2 linked regions of the Homo sapiens genome follow. The protein of the gene in region 2 interacts with the protein of the main gene of each other region in a pairwise test. Each region holds a gene or a part of one and is shown on either strand. Other genes may lie near its edges.

Region 1 (7,038 bases), on a different chromosome or scaffold from region 2:
CCAGAATGGAAGAAACAGAGATGGAAAGGGAAGATGGATGCAGGCAGAGCTAGAGAAACTGACAATGCCATAATCACACAGTATAATAAGGACGGTATTAAACTTTTTAGACCTTATCCTAAAAGCAACATGAAGCCATAGAATGATTTTTCAATCAGAGGAGTGACATCATGATCACTATGGCTATATTGTGGATGAAGAATTGGAGAAAACCAAGGGTCGATGTGGGGAAACAGAGGGCTGGAGTAGTTGGTCAGGACACAGTGTAGTAAGAAAAGATAGCCTTGGATGTGATGGCATATATGAAAACGGTTCCTCAACTAATACTACTCTATTCAGTTAACCTCAACTTTTCTCAGACTTTTTTTTGTGAAAATAATCATAACACACTTTTCAGACTTTTCCGTGAAAATAAATGAATCATACCAGAAGCCATTTTTTACACATGGGAATAAAAAAGTCTTAATTTTTTCAAACTGACTAAGTATTTCAAACTCTGCTATTAGGAATATAACACTGCACTTGAAGCAGAAAATATCATGAGCTCATAGACTGCATTTCAGAATAGACACATTAAATTATTAAATAAAAAATAAGCTTTATAAGGACATCAGCTGTCACTTACTGATCATTTGCTATGTGCTAGGTCATGTACTTTACATGCTTTTTTTTTAAGAGATGAGGTCTTGCCCTGTCACTCAGACTAGAGAGCAGTGGCACGATCATAGCTCACTGCAGCCTCAAACTCCTGGGCTCAGGAGAATCCTCCTGCCTGTAATCCACCTGTAAATAGCTGGGATTACAGGTGCACCTCCCAGCTATGTTTGCATTCTTATTTAACTTTCACCCCAATCCTAAAAAATAGGCACTATTTATTATTATTACTATTATTTAAAGATAATAAACTATGGCCAGGCGGGGTGGCTCATGCCTGTAATCCCAGAACTTTGGGGAGGCCAAGGAGGGCAGATCACTTGAGGTCAGGAGTTTGAGTCCAGCCTGGCCAACATGGTGAATCTCCACCTCTACTAAAAATACAAAAATTAGCTGGGTGTGGTGGCACATGCCTGTAGTCCCAGCTACTCGGGAAGGTGAAGCACAAGAATTGCTTGAACCTGGGAGGCGAAGGCTGCAGTGAGCCAAGATCGCACCATTGCACTCCAGCCAGGGTGACAGAGTGAGACTCTGTCTCAAAAAATACAATAAATAAATAAATAAATAAATAAATATAATAAACTATATTCTGGGCTGGGTGCCGTGGCTCCTGCTATAGTCCCAGCACTTTGAGAGGCTGAGGTGGGAGAATCACCTGAGCCCAGGAGTTCAAGACCAGCTAGGCAACACCTAGGCAACACAGTGAGACCCCATCTCTACAAAAAATTTTAAAAATTAGCCAGGCATGCATAAAAAGGAACAAAATAATGGCACTGGCAGCAACCTGGATGGAACTAGAGACTATTATTCTAAGAGAAGTAACTCAGGAACAGAAAATCAAACATCGTATGTTCTCACTTACAAGTAGGAGCTAAGCTAGGAGGGTGCAAAGGCGTAAGAACGATACAGCGGACTTTGGGAACTCAGGGGAAAGAGTGGGAGGCGAGTGAGAGATAAAAGACTACACATTGGGTACAGTGTACACTGCTTGGGTGATGGGTGCACCAAAATCTCAGAAATCACCACTGAAGAACTTATTCATGTAACTAAACACCACCTGTTCCCCAAAAACTTATTGAAATTAAAACTAAATTTAAAAAAAAATTAGCCAGACATGGTGGGATGCTCCTGTAGTCTCAGCTACTGGGAAGGCTGAAGCGAGAGAATCACTTGAGTCCAGGAGGCTGAGGCTGCAATGAGCCGTTATAGTGCCACTGCACCCCAGCCTGGGTGACAGGGTGAGACCTTGTCTTGAAAAAAACAAAACAAACAGAAAACAACAACAACAACAAAACTATATTCTGGGTCATAAAACAAGTCTTAATAAATTTAAAAACATTCAAGCCATAAAAAATATGTTCTCTAAATTGAGATTAAATTAGAAACCAATAACCAAAAATCTCTAGAGAATTTAAAAATATTTGGAAACTAAATAACACATTTCTAAATAACCCAGGATCAAAGAATAAATCAGGAGGTAAAATAGTATTTTGAACTACATGAAAATGAAAACATAGTATGTCAAAATCTGTGGGATGACACTAAAACAGTACTCAGTGGCAATTTATAGCATTAAACTCCCATATTAGAAAGGAAAAAAGGTCTCAAACCATGGCCTCAGCTTCCACTTTAAGTAGAAAGAAAAGAGGAAATTAAGCCCAAAGTAAGTAAGAAAAAAAAATAAAGATCAGAGCAGAAATAGATGAAATAGGAAACATAAAAACAGAAAGAAAAATTAATAAAACCAAAAGCTGGTTCTCTGAGAAGATCGATAAGATAAACCTCTAGTCAGACTAATCAGGAAAAAAAGAAAAGACGTAAGTTACCAATATCAAAAATGAGAAAAGTTATACCACTACATTCAACATACTAAAAGAATAATAAGGGAATAGTATAAACAACCTTTTGCCAATGAATTTGACAACTTAGATGAAACGGACTAATTCCGTGAAAGACAAGCTACCAAACCTCACTTAAGAAAAAACTGGCTGGGCACGGTGGCTCACGCCTGTAATCCCAGCACTCCGGGAGGCCAAGGCAGGCGGATCACCTGAGGTCAGTAGTTTGAGACCAGCCTGGCCAATACGGTGAAACCCGTCCCTACTAAAACTACAAAAATGAGCCAGGCATGGTGGCGTGTGCCTGTAATCCCAGCTACCCAGGTGGCTGAGGCGAGAGAATCGCTGGAACCCGGGGAAGCAGAGGAGACAGTGAGCCGAGATCGCGCCACTGCACTCCAGCCTGGGCAACAGAGCAAGACTCTGTCTCAAAAAAAGAAAAAAAAAAAAAGAAAAAATAGATAACCTGGCCGGGCACGGTAGCTCATGTCTGTAATCCCAGTGCTTTGCAAGGCTGAGGTGGGAGGACTGGTTGAGTCCAGGAGTTCAAGACCAGCTTAGAAAACATAGTGAGACCCTTATCTCTACCAAAAAAAAATTAAAATTAGCTGGGCATGGTGCGGTGGCACACACATATAGTCCCACCTACTCAGGGGGCTGAAGTGGGAGGATCGCTTGAGCCCGGGAGGTAGACGCTAAGTGAGCCATGATCACACCACTGCACTCCAGCCTGGTCGACAGAGTGAGACCCTGTTTCAAGAAAAAAATAATAATAATAGAAAAAATTAGCCAGGCGTGGTAGCACACACCTGTAGCCTCAGCTACTGGGGAGGCTGAGGTGGGAGGATTGCTTAAGGCCAGGAAGTCGAGGCTGCAGTGAGCTGTGATTGTGCCACTGTACTCCAGCCTGGGTAACAGAGTGAGACCCTGATTTAAAGAGAAAAAGAAAAAATACATAATCTGAATAGTCTTATGTCTATTAAAGAAATTGAATCAATAGTTGAAAACCTTCCCACAAAGAAAACTTCAAGCCCAGATGGCTTCACTGATGAATTCTACCAAACATTTAAGAAATAATACCAATTCTAGACAAATTCTTCTAGAAAACTGAAAAGAAGGGGATACTTTCTAACCCATTCTATGAAACTAGCATTATCACAATACCCAAACCAGAAAAATGCATTAGAAGAAAACTATATACTTACATCCCTCATGAACATGGATGCCAAAATTTTTTTAATTTAGCAAATAAATCTAACAATATATGAACAGAATAATGCATCATGACCAAGTGGCAAAGCTAGTTTCACATTCAAAAATCAATCAATGTAATTGACCATATTAACAAACCTTAAAAAAAAAGATTATTTCAATAGGTGCAGAAAAAAAATTACATTTGACAAAATCCAATATACAATCCAAAAACTCTCAGCGAACTAAGAATAGAAGGGAACTTCCTCAAACCTACAAAGGATATCTGTTAAAATTTACAGACATCATCATACTGGTGAAAGAATGAATGCATTTTCCCTAAGATCAGGAACAAGACCAAAATGTCCACTCTCACCACTTCTAATTTACTGGAGGTTCTAGCCTCCAGGTGCTATCAGGTAACAAAAATAAATTAAAGGAGATTGGAAAGGACAAAGTAAAAACTGTCTTTACTTGCAAACAACATTTTTTTTTTTTTTTGAGACAGAGTCTTGCCCTGTCACCCAGGCTGGAGTGCAATGGCACGATCTTGGTTCACTGCAACCTCCGCCTCCGAGGTTCAGGCGATTCTCCTGCCCCAGCCTCCCGAGTAGCTGGGATTACAGGCACGTGCCACCATGCCTGGCTAATTTTTTTATTTTTAGTAGAGACAGGGTTTCACCATGTTGGTCAGGCTAGTCTCGAACTCCCGACCTCGTGATCTGCCTGCCTCGGCCTCCAATGTGCTGGGATTACAGGCGTGAGCCACTGTGCCTGGCCAACATATTCTTACAAGTAGAAAATCCTACAAAATTTACAAAAAACCCAAAACATAAAAAAACTACTAGAATTAATAAGTTTAGCAAAGTTTCAGGATACAAGGTCAATATACAAAAATCAACTGTGGGTACTAAGAGGGCAGTCATCAAAAAGACAGTAACAAGTGCTGGCAAAGATGTGAAGAAATCAGAAACCTCACACATTGCTGATGGGAATATAAAATGGTGTAGCTACTGTAGAAAAGTTTGGCAGCTCCTCAAAACATTAAACAAAGTTACCATGTGACCTAGTAATTCCACTCTTAGGTATATACCCAAGAGAAACTAAACATATGTTCACACAAAAATCTGTAAAAGAATGTTCAAAGTAACATTATCTGTAATAGCTAAAAAGTAGAAACAACAAATGTTCACCAACTAATAAATGGATAAACAAAATATGATATATCTATACAATATTATTCAGACATAAAAAATAATGAATTGCTGGCCTAGTGCAATGGCTCACGCCTGTAATCTCAGCACTTTGGGAGGCCGAGGCGGGTGGATCACAAGATCAGGAGTTCAAAACCAGCCTGGCCAATATGGTGAAACCCCGTCTCTACTAAAAATACAAAAATCAGCCAGGTGCAGTGGCTCACGCCTGTAATCCCAGCACTTTCAGAGGCTGAGACAGGCGGATCACAAGGTCAGGAGATCAAGACCATCCTGGCTAACACGGTGAAACCCCGTCTCTACTAAAAACACAAAAAATTAGCTGGGTGTGTTGGCGGGCGCCTGTAGTCCCAGCTACTCAGGAGGCTGAGGCAGGAGAATCGCTTGAACCCAGGAGGCAGAAGTTGCAGTGAGCCAAGATCACGCCACTGCAATCCAGCCTGGGCGACAGAGCAAGACTCCGTCTCCAAAAAAAAAAAAAAAGTAATGAATTGCTGATATATGTTTATATGTTACAATAGGGATGAAGCTTGAAAACACTGTAAGTGAAAGAAGTTATTCACAAAAGGCCACATAGCATATAATTCCATTTATAGAAAATGTCCAGAATAGGCAAACTCATAGAATAGATATAGACAGTAAATTAGTAGTTGCTGGGTTGGGGGAAGGGAGGTGGTAATGGATTGGGAGTGACTGACTGCTAATGGATACAGGGTTTCTTTTTGGAGTGATAGAAATGTTCTGGAAACAGACAGCGGTGACAGCTGTACGACATTGTAAATGTACCTATGAACTATAAAGTGTAAAATGGTTAAAATCATAAATTTGATATTTGAATTTTATCACAAAAGCTACCTAAAGAAATCAATTTCATCTCTATATATTAGTAACACACAATCCAAAATTGAAATTATGAAAGCAATCCTATTCACAATAGCATCAAAAAAATACTTAGGAATAAATTAATCAAAACAAGTGCAATACTTGTACACTAAAAGCTACAAAATACAGATGAGAGAAATTAAGATATAAATAAATGGAGAGAAGCTGGACATGGTAGCTGACATGGGAAATCCCAGGGCTTTGAAAGGCCTCAGTAGGAGATTGCTTGAGCCTAGGAGTTCAAGACCTGACTGAGCAACACAGCAAGACCCAGTCTTTACAAAAACAAAAAAATGAGCCAGGTGTGGTGGCGCACAGCTGTAGTTCTCATTACTCAGGAGGCAGAAGTGAGAGGATAGCTTCAGCCCAGGTTCAAGGCTGCAGTAAGCTATGACTGCACCACTGCACTCCAGCCTGGGCAACAGAGCAAGACCCTGTCCATAATTCATTAATGTTTCAACGTTTTAAATGAAGAGAAGTATCATGTTCATGGACTGAAGACTCAATATTGTCAGAATGACAATTCAACACAATCCCTATGAAAATCCTAGCAGGATAAACTTCAAAAACATTATTTGATGTGAAAGAAAACAGATAAAAAAGGTGACATATTATATGACATCATTTATATGACATTTCAAGAAAAGGCAAAATTATAGTGACAGAAAGCAGATCAATAGTTGCTTGGGGGTGGGTCTGCAAATGGGCATAAAGGAAATTTTGAGGATGACAAGGGTGTTCTAAAGCTGGATTGTGATGATGGTTTCACAACTGTATATATTTACTACACTCATCAAACTGCACAGCTGCAATATGTGAATTTATGGCACAGTAATTATGTCTCAATAAGGGAGTTTTTTAAAAAGTAAAGATTCACTTACCATTGTAGCCTTCAAGTACAGAATCAATAATAGGTCTTGCAGTTAAGTTATAAACATCAAGTTGTTTACTCTCTGGTCCAAAAACAGTATCAAAAGTAAATGTCTTTGGAGGTTCATTGGAAGAATCAGTCTTATGTACAGTGATAGTTCCCCTCATCTCATCCACACTGACAGCCTGTTTGTAGCACATTGATTTCTCTCTCTCATTGAGGGGCCGGCACCTAACAACAACCTTCACATTATCGCAGCTTTCTGGCTTCTCTGATTTATTGATCTGTTGGAGATAATATTTACAAATAATGAAAAGAACATTAATTTTTACCCTCATCAGATTAAATTTATAAACTTTAAAAGGCTACTTTTCCAACTCAGTGCCTT
Region 2 (7,038 bases):
CAGCCTGGGCAATAAGACTCTGTCTCAAAAAAAACAAAAAAAAATGAATTATTCTAAGTTATAATCTTCTTTATTTTTATTTATTTACTTTTTTGAGACAGGGTCTGGCTTTGTCACCAAGGCTGAGTGCAGTAGCACAATCACAGCTCACTGCAGCTTCAAACTCCTGGGCTCAAGCAATCCTCCCACCTCAGTCCCCTGAGTAGCTGGGACTAGAGGTGCCCACCACTATGCCTAGCTAATTAAAAATTTTTTTGTGTGTAGAGATAGGGTTTCACTATGTTGTCCAGGCTGGTCTCAAACTCCTGGCCTCAAGCCATCCTCCCACTTAAGCCTCCCAAGTAGCTGGAATCACAAGCATAAACCACGGCACCCGGCTAGGATTATTCTAATTGCTAGAGCTGTCCAAAAATCTATCTAGTAAGATTTTTAAAAACCTCATTCAAAGGTTACTTGTAAATTAAATTAAAAATATGGACTTAAAGGACTTAAGTCAGTAAAAGTATATGACAGATCAGTAAAAGTACATGACAAAGTTAATTTTATTATTGCTTAAAAGTTATATAGTTCCCAAGTAGATTTCACAAAATGGATGTGATGTAAGCTGATTCATATACATGTATCATCTTGTTTTTCTCACATTTACTGAAAATTATACAGACATGTGAGGAAATCTTACCTTCTTGGTAGGCTCCATCTGCCATGACTAAATGAAGAATCTTGGCATAAAGATGCTGATGTTCATTTCCCAAAATATTTTGAACTATTTTTGAACAAATTTCAATATTTTCATCTTCATCTTCATGAATAGCCTATACCAAATTCCCAAATATAAATTAATATTTGAATAACTTTCTGTAATTGCAGACTTCACTTTTTATTTATAATAAATCTAATGACCAATACAGATTATCAACATTTCTTCAACCTTCAAACATAGCACATTTTAAGTGTTTTAATTGACTTTTCACTTACCTTTATTTTCTCATAAACCTCAAAGAATTTTTCAAAGCCCATTTCCTGCTCCAGATGAAGTCTCAGTTCCTCTAAATGGTTAAAGACACTATCGCATTCACATTCACTAGCAATTTCACCATCACTGTTATCTAAAAAACAAAATTAAAATAGAGATTTGATTTAAAAAGACTGAATAACTCATACCCTAATAGACTAAAATTCTATGACAAATGAATAATGCCATTGAAATAGACTACTTCTACTTTCATTATAAACAGTTTTTGTCATTTTAATATTTGTCCTTTATTTGGCAAAAAAAATGTATAAATCTGTCTAAACAAGAATGTTACTTTTCATGTATAGATATAAAAAATAAATCAGGTTGGAATCAAAACACTCCTAGAGATGTTACTTAAATAAAAAAAAAAAAGTGGAAAAAGCACACCTCCATGTTTTGCTTTGAAGCAGCTAACCCTAACTAGTATTTTCAAAAGTTGGTAATAAACACGGGAAACACCATGGAAAAGCCTGCAAAAGGTAGACAACCTAAGACATACATCATTACATTTCAGGAAAGCACCTAGAAAGTATAAATGGCCAATATGTTTTGTCATGTACGTGCTCGACATACTTTGAAAAAAATTACTTAGTCTTTTCACATTAGCTTTTCTTCCTAAATTAATATCATATAGTTATTGAAACAGACACACTTTCTATGCATCTTAGGGGTAATATTATGAAAGAGAAAGTTTACAAATTTACGAAAAGAGTTTTTAGTACTTTAAAAACTGCTTTCAGTGTTAACTCTGCTGGTTAATATATGCAGAAGCTCTTTCTAAAATATAGAATGCCAAGAAAACAATGTTATTATCTTTATTACTGGAAAAATCAGTCAATAAATGGAGATTAGAATAAAAATGCTTCAAAAAAGCATTGACATAATAGGAAAGAAATAAAAACTTTAATAAAAAATGGAAAATCACACATTTGTATGAAAAGAAAAAGAATGAAAAAAGGGGAGAGACCCAGAGGCATGCTTCAGTTGTATTTAAAGTTGGAAATGGTTCACAGCAGAGATTAGAAAAATACACTCTACTTGAAATATTTGTAAACTGAAAAAGAAAAAGGTCCAAAACTCTGATCATGCACCTGAGTGCCATTCTTCGTTCAGGGCACTTTCACTGCTGGGATTGTCATCTTCATCTGCCACATCTGTCCCATTTGCAGTTGGCTCCACATCACTGTTCTTCAAGACTGACTCTTCTTCTTCACTGTATTCTTCACCAGGTTGTTCCCTAAGTAACTGTTCCATCGAGGCCTGCAGCTCTTGTAAATCTGTGTCAGTTTCTTCAAACACACTGAAATTTAAAAAGTATAACTAAAAGTTTCAAACATACTGAAATTTACCAAGTTAAACAACTAAAACTACCTCATACTGAAATTTTACTTCTACTCAATACGTAGGCACTTCTTAAAAAATCCTAATAGTAGATAACAAAAAATCTGGAAAAAGCCTACATTGTTTTTCACCGGTAAATTGAGGATGAATACAACTGATAAATATATCACACAACACATATTCTGGAATATATAAGCCAGAAGATGATTTGTTTAAAATGATCCCAACTTGCCAAAGAGAATCACATAACTATCGATGTTACTCATTGCTTAAATTCTGAAACAATGTTTTGATATTTTAACAGGCCAGACTATAGAAGTTTTTCTAAAACAAATAATAGTAAATTATTTTCTCTTTTATGGAATTTTGTAATTTTCAAAATATCCATGTGGCTAATAGCTAGACACTATACAAAAGGCTTTCCATATACATGCCCATTGGGCATTTGAACTTTTAGAAATAGAAATACTTAGGAAATTTTATATTCATGTTAATAGGATGACCCAGTGAATAAAATGGTCACCAGAAATCTTATCTTTAGATGCTTATTCTTAAAAATGTTCTAAAATACATAATAGATTTTCTGTGTAACTAGCCTATACCAACCATCATAATTCTTCACTGGAGAATTTTGTTTCCAAAGTATTGGTAAGAATATTCATTCTATTTTCATGGGATTATAGATGCTGGAATGAAATAACTTATACAAATAATACCTTACATTTATATAGAACTTTTGTTTTTTAAACATTTTTATCCTACTACTCAAATTTTATCCACAAAAAATCACTTTAGAGACATGAAAACTATGAACCAAAATGTTTAAATGACTTGGTCAAGGCCACATAGTCAGTAAATGACAGAGCACTGAAATCTAGTCTTTGACCACTTCTGTAATATCTGAGAAACATACTCAGAAAAATTTTTTTCCTCTTATGATTTGCTTCTTTATCCTAACATGGAATGTAAATGGAAAAGTTTGTAGACTAAAGGAGTTAACTGATGTTTTAGATGTCTGAAGACTTCTAAAAGAGATTATGTACCTAAGCCGGGATTTCATCTATCAGGAAGGCAATGCTTAACAGGACACAAGGGCTAATTAAGGCCTTTCTAAAAGTTTAGACTCCAATCAAATATTTACTGAAGAACTAAAATATAAACACTATTGTGTAAGACTGTCAATATAATTTCCATTAATAGAGTAAATAATCTTTTTATGTAGAAATATCTTTATTTTGTACTTATATGTACAAACGCCTACAATTTGACTTGTAGGAGCTATAGAAAAGCAAAGCATCTAATTAGAATGAGAAAATAGTGTCTAATCTCTTGAATCATCCTACTAGTAGCATTTAACTTAATATATAATTACAAGACTAATTTAGGCTGGGTACAGTGGCTCATGCCTGTAATCCTAGCCCTTTGGGAGGCTGAGACAAGAGGATTGCTTGAGGCCAGGAGTTTGAGACAAGCCTGGGCAACATAGCGAGACCCCTCTAGAAAAAAAATTGCAAAAAACTTAGCTAGGCGTGGTGGCACGAGCCTGTATTCCTAGCTACTAGGGAGTCTGAGGCAGGAGGACTGCTTGAGCCCAGGAGTCCAAGGCTGCTGTGAACTATGATTGCAGCACTGTACTATAGCCAGGGTGACAGAGTGAGACCCTATCTCCCCCAAAAAATTTTATTATTAAAAAAAGATCAACGAAGTATGCACACCTGCTATGTACCATTACTACAATGAGTAAATATTGACCTGTTCATAAAATCATCTAGTGGCTGGCCTAGAGGAATTAGTACCCTCTGCAGATGGTATTCAATTGAGGCAGCTAAGCTTGCCACTGTAAGAAAGTATGAGAAGATTAAGATCTTTTACTAAATGAGCACCAAAAAACTTTAAGGTACTTAAAAAAATTTGGTCTTGAATTCAGTTTTTAGTTGGCTATCTTATAAAATCTTGACTAAAGTTTAGACAAAAAAAAATAATAATAATTTTCCAAAGACAAACATCAAGTGAAATATCCCTATAACAATATGAAATAACGTACTTTAAAAACAACTTGGTTTTCGAATTTTTCAATTAATACTAAAGGCTTCTAACTTAAGTTTTAAAATAAAATTCTGTCATCAATTGTTCATTAAAAGAACACATGCATAACACAAACTTAGCAGCTTGGAAGAAAGAAAAAATAAAAGAACACAAGCCACAAATAAGCTGTAGTTCATTCAGATAAAAATAAATGATTTCATAAAATTTTTGGGAAAAAAATTTTAGTTAGCAGTTTGTCAACAATAAAAATCCTGAATGTTGTTATGTTCTCCAATAGGATTAATAAAAACACAATATTTCAGTGTTTAATGACTACAGTCAAGTAGAAGAAACAAAAGTAAAAAGGTAACTTTTCTTCTAGATTGTAAGGTCATTAGCAAAAATCTACAGAACTCTAGGAAAAATGAAAAAGGCAATCTTTTAAAAATGAAGTTTCACCAGAAACTTAAGAAGCAAGGGCAAGGCTTAAAAAAGAACCAAAAACCAGAAAATAAAATGTGCCAGCGGCATCGATCCTACGTAACTCAATACAGAAGAAAACATTATGAGAGTGATATAATACTTTCAATCAGATCAAAATACAAGTTCTTTCCAAAGGTAAAAGTAAAAAGCAGAAACAAGTTCAAAGAAATTACAAAATAAATTATAAAAATTCTAATATTTTATAACTTTTTATCCAGGTGATTTGAACACACTGTACCTTCTCACCTTACTCTAGGAAACTCTGGTTTTATTACACCAAAAAGTGTGTAACATTTGTCTAAGACAGTTGAGAGGGCTGACCAACACTGAACAAGGTAAAGGAAGGTTCTTTTTGTTTTTTTATGGAAAAAAATTTTTTTTTTAATTTTACTTTAAGTTTTAGGGTACATGTGCACAATCTAAGGGGTTATCACTCCTTACAGCTCTCAGAGGTATTGCTTGTTAAATTTCCCTCCTAGATTCAGGATTCCCCATGAATCACAAAGAAAGCAATTTTGTGAAAACAATCCAATTACATGCAGAAAACATGTGTGCACTGACACATGTGCACACACACACATGAACAAAACTGGTCGACCTGCTAACTCCCCATTGGCATGGCTTTGAAATCATATATGGCAAGAGGTAGATGTGGAGCTTTCTGGTCATTCTCCTGGGAAACTGTAGAGCACAGTCATGAATTGCTTAACAACAGGAAGCATTCTGAGAAATGCATTGTTATAGCCAATTTCATTGTTGTGCTAACATCATAGAATGTGCTTACACAAACCTAGTCAGTATAGCTAACTACATACCTAGGCTACAAAGTAGAGCCTGTTTACTCCTAAGCTACAAACCTGTACAGCATATGACTGTACTCAGTACTGGAAGCAACTGTAACACAATGCTATCTGTCTATTCTAAATATATCTAAACATAGAAAAGGTACAGTGAAAACACTGTATAAAAGATAAAAAATGGTAAACTTTATAGGGTACTTATCATAGGACATTACTATACACTACTATAGACTTATAAACACAGTATATGCTTAGGCTACACTAAATTTATCAATTTATTTTTCTGCAATAATAAATTAACTTGGCCAGTCCCAGTGGCTCACACCTGTAATCCTAGCTATTTGGGAGAGTGAAGTGGAAAGATTGCTTGAGTCCAGGAGTTGGAGGCTGCAGTGAGCTATCATCATGCCAGTGCACTCCAGCTTATTTATTTTTCATTTTTGAGACAGGGTCTCACTCTGTTGCTCAGGCTGGAGTGCAGTGGCATGATCATGGCTCACTGCTGCCTCAAACTCTTGGGCTCAAATGATTTTTCCACCTCAGCCTCCTGAGTAGCTGAGACTACCTACAAGGCATGTGGAAACAAACCTGGCTATTAAAAAAATTTTTTTTGGCTAGGTGTGGTAGCTCATGCCCGTAATCCTAGCACTTTGGGAGCCCAAGGTGGGCAGATCGCTTGAGGTCAGGAGTTTGAGACCAGCCTGACCAACATGCTGAAACCCCATCTCTACCAAAAATACAAAAATTAGCCAGGCGTGGTGGCAAGTAATCTCAGCTACTCAGGAGGCTGAGGAGGAGAATCGCTTGAACTTGGGAGGCAGAGGTCGCCGTGAGCCAAGATCATGCCACTGCACTCCAGCCTGGGTGACAGAGCAAGAGTCCACCTCAAAAGAAAAAATAAATTTTTTTTTGTAGAGATGGTGTCTCACTATGTTGCCCAGGCTGGTCTCACATTCCTCCTGCCTTGGCCTCCCAATGTGGTGGGATTGTAGGTGTGAGCCACTGTGTCCAACCCACACTCCAGCTAGGTGATAGAGTGACACCCTGTCTCTTAAAATAGATAAAAATAATATACAGAAGACATAAAAGCAGAGGTTAATGATTAAAAAAAAGAGCTAGGTAAGTTATCCCCTCTTTTTTACATATAAATTCAGAAACTCTTTTAATGCTGTTTACTAATGACATTATAGCCACTGTGTCCAGCCTGTATTCCAGCTAGGTGACAGAGTGAGACCCTGTCTCTTAAAATAGATAAAAATAATATACAGAAGACATAAAAGCAGAGGTTAATGAGTTAAAAAAAAGAGCTAGGTAAGTTATCCCCTCTTTTTTACATATAAATTCAGAAAATCTTTTAATGCTGTTTACTAATGA

The links. The genes of interacting proteins can lie anywhere in the genome.
Region 1: the proteins of NEK1 (region 2) and KIF3A interact in a two-hybrid assay, tested with the Homo sapiens proteins (one study listed by BioGRID and IntAct).

The regions. Positions count from the first base shown.
Region 1 is NC_000005.10:132,727,545-132,734,582, forward strand, and holds part of KIF3A (kinesin-like protein KIF3A), read right to left. Parts: intron 6,935-7,038; coding exon 6,661-6,934; intron 1-6,660. UniProt on the Homo sapiens protein: Microtubule-based anterograde translocator for membranous organelles. Plus end-directed microtubule sliding activity in vitro. Plays a role in primary cilia formation. Plays a role in centriole cohesion and subdistal appendage organization and function.
Region 2 is NC_000004.12:169,399,546-169,406,583, forward strand, and holds part of NEK1 (serine/threonine-protein kinase Nek1), read right to left. Parts: intron 2,316-7,038; coding exon 2,107-2,315; intron 1,107-2,106; coding exon 976-1,106; intron 813-975; coding exon 680-812; intron 1-679. UniProt on the Homo sapiens protein: Phosphorylates serines and threonines, but also appears to possess tyrosine kinase activity. Involved in DNA damage checkpoint control and for proper DNA damage repair.